Regions from separate parts of the Homo sapiens genome. Here region 1 is linked to region 2. Evidence: fine-mapped expression QTL. A gene starts in region 2. The other region holds a variant in brackets. All regions are shown on one strand. Distances are from middle to middle. Region 1 overlaps SLC2A13 (solute carrier family 2 member 13). Region 2 holds the start of ABCD2 (ATP binding cassette subfamily D member 2).

Evidence for each region. PIP is the estimated chance that this variant, and not a neighbour inherited with it, causes the effect.
Region 1: its variant is fine-mapped to the expression of ABCD2 in whole blood (TOPMed, PIP above 0.99).

What each region holds. Positions count from the first base shown.
Region 1 is chr12:39,807,357-39,810,182 of GRCh38, forward strand. The region is part of intron 7 of SLC2A13 (solute carrier family 2 member 13); the gene reads right to left. It also overlaps a transcript of REDIC1 not described here. Among named protein-coding and RNA genes, the nearest start is that of REDIC1, 180 kb to the left of the region's middle. The variant CCAACACT/C (reference allele first, on the strand shown) is at 1,228.
Region 2 is chr12:39,618,197-39,621,022 of GRCh38, forward strand. It overlaps ABCD2 (ATP binding cassette subfamily D member 2), which reads right to left and starts at 1,607. Exons shown (of 10, transcript NM_005164.4): 1 at 481-1,607. The coding sequence starts at 1,419. RefSeq lists enhancers at 1,009-1,088, 1,399-1,918.

The DNA of each region.
Region 1 (2,826 bases), 190 kb after region 2:
GTCTGAACACAATCAGTGGATTGAAACAATATCAATCTCCTGGGTGAAACTATACCATAATTATGCAAGTTGTTATTCAGGGGAACTGGGTAAAGAGTACATGGGATCTCTACATTATTTCTTAAAACTGCATGTAAATATATAGTTATTTCAAAATAAAAACACTAATTGAAAAACAAGTAAAGGGTGGCTATAAGACTTGATAAATATCAGCTAGGCTACTCATTTGCTTTCAAAGGTACTGTTAAACCTGCAGGTAAGCTACAAGCAAATAAATCTGGTGATTAAAATGGATACATGATTTAGTTTTTCTATTTCTTTTTGTGTTTTGGAAATTTGTGTTATCAGGAATTTTGTCCATTTCTTCTAAGTGCACCCTTTCAATTATAATAATTATAATAATGGAGAGTTGGGTCTTCTCCCCCTAGGTGAGTCTAGCTATAAAAGTTGCCTAAGCCAACTTTTAATAATCGTACCAGGAGAATCTTGTCTGTGATGAAAAGTGTCATCAAATGCTGTTTGCTTAAAGTAGAATTAGTCTGCCCTTTGAAAATAGCTAGGAAGATATAATTTTGTATGCTATAATTCTTGGAAGTCAAGAAATCCAGTACTTTAATCATCTATTCATGTATAATATACAAAATATAAAGTGTACCAATTTTACGTGTAAGTCAATGAGTTTTGACAATGTATAAATCCATGTAACCACTACCACAGACAAGAGAGTAAACATTTCCATAACACCAAAAATTTCCTTCATGCCCAACTCCAGTCAATAACTGAGCTATTTCTGGTCAATAGAGATTGGGTTTGCTCTTCTAGAATTTTATATAAATACTTGTACAGTATATATTGTTTTGTATCTGGCTTTTTTGCCCAACACAATGTTTCTGAAATTGTACCAGGTTACTGGACATATCAGTAATTCCTTCCATCTATCTGGGTAGTATTTAATTATATGGGTGTATCATAATTTGTTTATCCACTCACCTGTTGAAGTAACATCTACGTAATTTCCAATTTTGTCCATTATGAATAAGGCTGCTATAAACGACTGTGTAGAAACATTTGTTGGACACATTTTATTTCATTTGACTAAATGTGTCATAATTGAATTACTGGGTTGTATGGAAAAGATGTGATTAACTTCAGAAGAAACCTCCAAACTGATTTCTGAAGTGTTTGTACCAATTTACATTCCCATTAACATGATGCTTCACAACCTCA[CCAACACT/C]TGATATTTTGACTTTTTCATTTTAGCTATTCTAGTTGGTGTGCTGTAGCATGTCACTATAATTTTTTTGCATTTCTTTAATGATTAATAATGTTGAACATTATATCTATGTGCTTATTTGCCATCTTTTTATAGTCTTTTGTGACTTGTCTGTTCAAATCTTTTGGCGTCTTTTGAAAGGTTGCTTTATTTATTTTAAGTTGTAAGAATTCTTTATTCATAATTCCTTTGTTAGATATACTTATTGTAAATAATACTTCCGGTCTGTGGCTTGGGCTTTGTATTCTCTTAACAATGTCTTTCAAAGAGTAGACAATTTTAATTTTAATGAACTCCAATATATCAATTTTTTCTTTTGTTGTGTGTGCTTTTTGTGTCCTATCTACTTGCTTACCCTGATGTCGCAAAGATTTCCTCCTATGTTTCCTTATAAATGTTTTATGATTTTAGCTTTTACTATTAGGTCTATGATGTATATTGAGCTTTTTTGTGTTTAGGGTGTAAGAGTTGAGGTCCATTCCCTCCACCTTCACCCGCAATGTAGATAGCCAACTGTATTAGGACCATTTGTTGAAAAGACTATTCTTTCCCCATTGGATTAATTTGGTTTTTTTATTGAAAATCAATTGGCCATGCATATATGGATCTATTTCTGGACTTTATTCTGTTCCCTTGATGTTTATGTCTATTTTACCAACATCACATTGTCTGGATTACTGTAACTTTATAGTAAGTCTTGAAATCAGATAGGGCATGTCTTTCTTTTTCAGGAATGTTTTGGCCATTCCAGTTCTTTTGCATTTCTATATAAATTTCAGAACGAGCTTGTCATTTTTTATAGAACTGTTTATAGGGATTATGATTAGAATTACTTGAGTTGATCTAGAGATCAACTTAAAAGGAACTGACATCTTTTTTAAAAATTATTATTATACTTTAAGTTTTAGGGTACATGTGCACAACGTGCAGGTTTGTTACATATGTACACATGTGCCCTGTTGGTGTGCTGCACCCATTAACTCGTCATTTAGCATCAGGTATATCTCCTAATGCTATCCTTTCCCCATCCCCCCACCCCACAACAGTCTCTGGTGTGTGATGTTCCCCTTCCTGTGTCCATGTGTTCTCATTGTTCAGTTCCCACCTATGAGTGAGAACATGCGGTGTTTGGTTTTTTTGTCCTTGCGATAGTTTGCTGAGAATGATGGTTTCCAGCTTCATCCATGTCCCTACAAAGGACATGAACTCATCCTTTTTTATGGCTGCATAGTATTCCATGGTGTATATATGCCACATTTTCTTAATCCAGTCTATTATTGTTGGACATTTGGGTTGGTTTCAAGTCTTTGCTATTGTGAATAGTGCCGCAATAAACATATGTGTGAATGTGTCTTATAGCAGCATGATTTATAATCCTTTGGGTATATACCCAGTAATGGGATGGCTGGGGCAAATGGTATTTCTAGTTCTAGATCCCTGAGGAATCGCCACACTGACTTCCACAATGGTTGGACTAGTTTACAGTCCCACCAACAATGTAAAAGTGAAGAACCGACATCTTAACCATATTAAGTCTTCTTATCCACGAGTGT
Region 2 (2,826 bases):
TAAAAATGTCTTCTATAAGAAACCCTGGCTCTTCCCCCCTCTTGGACAACAAAGGAACAACAAAGAATATCATTCTAAATTTTCCATTTCAGTGGAAATATGTTTAGTCTTAGTTTCTAAATATATATTTTCTTCTGGTAGGTGCTTTAGGATGACCTACCAAGTTGGGATTTAAGTTTTAAGAAAATGCGTTAGAAATAATTCTGAGCATATTTGAGTAACTGAGGCTAAGTAGACTTTTTTAGAGTGTTGCAAATTTTATTCTTCTGAAACTTTAGAAAAGTTTGCACCCTATAATCCTTTAACTGGTTACAGTTAAAAGGGGTAATGAAGCATATATTTTAATTCAGGTTTAGATGTCAGAGGAATCTAAGACACTAAAGAAGTGGGTCCATCGACAGGACAACAGATGGTATCTGGCACTGCAGTGGCAACTTGAACAGTTTCACATTTCACCCATCACCTTAATTTCTATCTTACCTTATGTCCTCTGTAAAAGGCAATTTCTTCTACATTGGCTATAATTCTCGAGTGCACATACCGCAAATAGCCTTTTCTATGTGCTTCCTCTGCCACCAGTTTGCCAAATTTGGGAGAACAGGCTTTTAACACTTTAGCAGTGGCATACACCACAAGTCCTGCTAGTAGGGTGGGCCCAATTGGGCTTGCTCCTCTGGATGTAGCAGTTTGAATGAGTGTATAGGAGGTCAGCATTACATCTAAAATAGGTTTGGTCAGATTGGAATACAAGTGAGCCACAGATTGGGAGAACATCATAATATCCTCCGTAAGAGATTGGTCAGGGTTTGCCAGCCTCCCATCCATATTGATCACTTTATAATAAGTCTGATTTGTAAAATAGGTTTCATAGGCGTGGTCTACTAGGCGAGTTCTGAAGGCCAAAGCCAATTTGCATTCCAGGTACCTTATTGCACTGTTGACGAAGGTAGCAGGGATGGCAATCATAAGCCACTTGATTAATTTGATGATGAAAGTCCGAGGCTTCTTTTCCACAATGCTTTTCACGATTTTTCCATCCAGACCAGCCACATAGATAGAAAGAAAGGTTCTTGAGATTAGAGCCACTGAGTGCAGGCAGAGCCACCCTGTTTCAGTGGTCACAAGTTTTGGAAACAAAATTTTCCGAAGTTCTAGTAGCTGTTTGAAGAAATCTGCATTCACTCCAGGCGAAGGTTTTTCACAAATGGTCTCGGTGCAATGCAGTATTTCTGTGTTCTCTGCAGCAGGGTAAGCTGCTGCTTTTTTCTTCCCGTGGCCAGATTGCTTTAAACGCTTGCCAATGATGGGATAGAGGGTTTTCAGAGCATATGCCGCAGCCACCAGGCAGGCAGCCCTCTTAGCAGCACTCGATCTGGTCCATTTCACTCGATCAGCTGCTGCATTTAGCATATGTGTCATTTTCCCAGTTACCCAAACCGGCTTCCAAAAGAATTCGTTTTAAAAGATCATGCTTCACAGAAATCCCCAGCAAATGTTTTAGAAAGTCCTACAGCGTCCCATAGTCTGCAGCGTTTCTCTTCCACTGTTGTGTTTTTAATTTTGTTCTGCTGTGACAGATGCAGCAGAGCTCAGACTCCGCTGCATCTACCGGGAATGATTCTCTCAGAAGCTCAAGCTGCACCAAGCTCCTCCCTCCCAGGCCCCTCATTGGCTGTGAGGGCGGTGGGACCTTGGAATCCTCGCAGCTTCCCTTTGAACCTTGAAAATGAGGAGAGAGCAAAGCGAATTACATCCTTCCTTAAACAGGAGTTCAGAGAGTTAAAATGTCTATTTTTGGAGAGGTCGAATCAGGCCATCTGCTGGCGAACAAAACCGGCTCTAGCTACTGAGCATGCTCAGTGTCACTTAGAAACCCACAGAAGTTTCAGAATATACATCACTTCGGTAAGATTTCAGTAGATACCGCAAACAGAAGAGCAAGCAGAAAGGGAGATTTCCAAGCGAACAAAACCGGCCCTAGCTACTGAGCATGCTCAATGTCACTTAGAAACCCGCAGAAGTTTCAGAATATACATCACTTCGGTAAGATTTCAGCAGCTACCGCAAACAGAAGAGCAAGCAGAAAGGGAGATTTGCAAGAGTTTTAATGAGACGAGGAGGGAGAAGGAACCACGAAAATGAGGGAGGAGGGACAAGAGGATCAACATAAAATGAATATGAAAAGGATATGGAATGAATCTGAAACGGATCAGAAAAGAAAGTGACAAGTGGGAGGGACACCGGAGAATGCCAAATATCAAATACACTTGGATCTGTTTTTCACAGATCCCCCCGGCTTTTTTGGGGGTCTGATTTCACAAAAGGTCTCAGAACCTAATAGACAAGTTGTAATCGAGGGTTTCCCTTGTAAATAAATAGGATAAAAGTCTTCCGTGTTACAGAAAATAATTATTTGCTATGCCTCTAGCCATTCTCCCTTTTTCCTCTGCATCCTACTTGTCCTTATGCTAAAAATCTTCCAGCCCCATAACTGGAGATCTGATGTACTCATATTTATTTACAAGGTGACGACTATTAAATAAATGAGAGCAATGTTTCATGTTTACTACTCCCATGTGTTAGGTAGTTTTTACTTGGAGTGGGGTAGCACTTATAGTGAAAGTTTAACCATTTGGGAATTCAGCTGGTGTTGGATGGTGGAAATAGCTTCTCTAGGACCTTACTTCATTTTTCAAGAATGCTTTGTCTTTTGCAGGTTTCTGCTTTGTTTGTTTTGTTTAGCTGTAGAGATAATCTACTGGCTACTTCCTATTTCCATTTGGTTATTTGATAAAAACTAAGAGTCTTAAAATTCTTCACATCCAT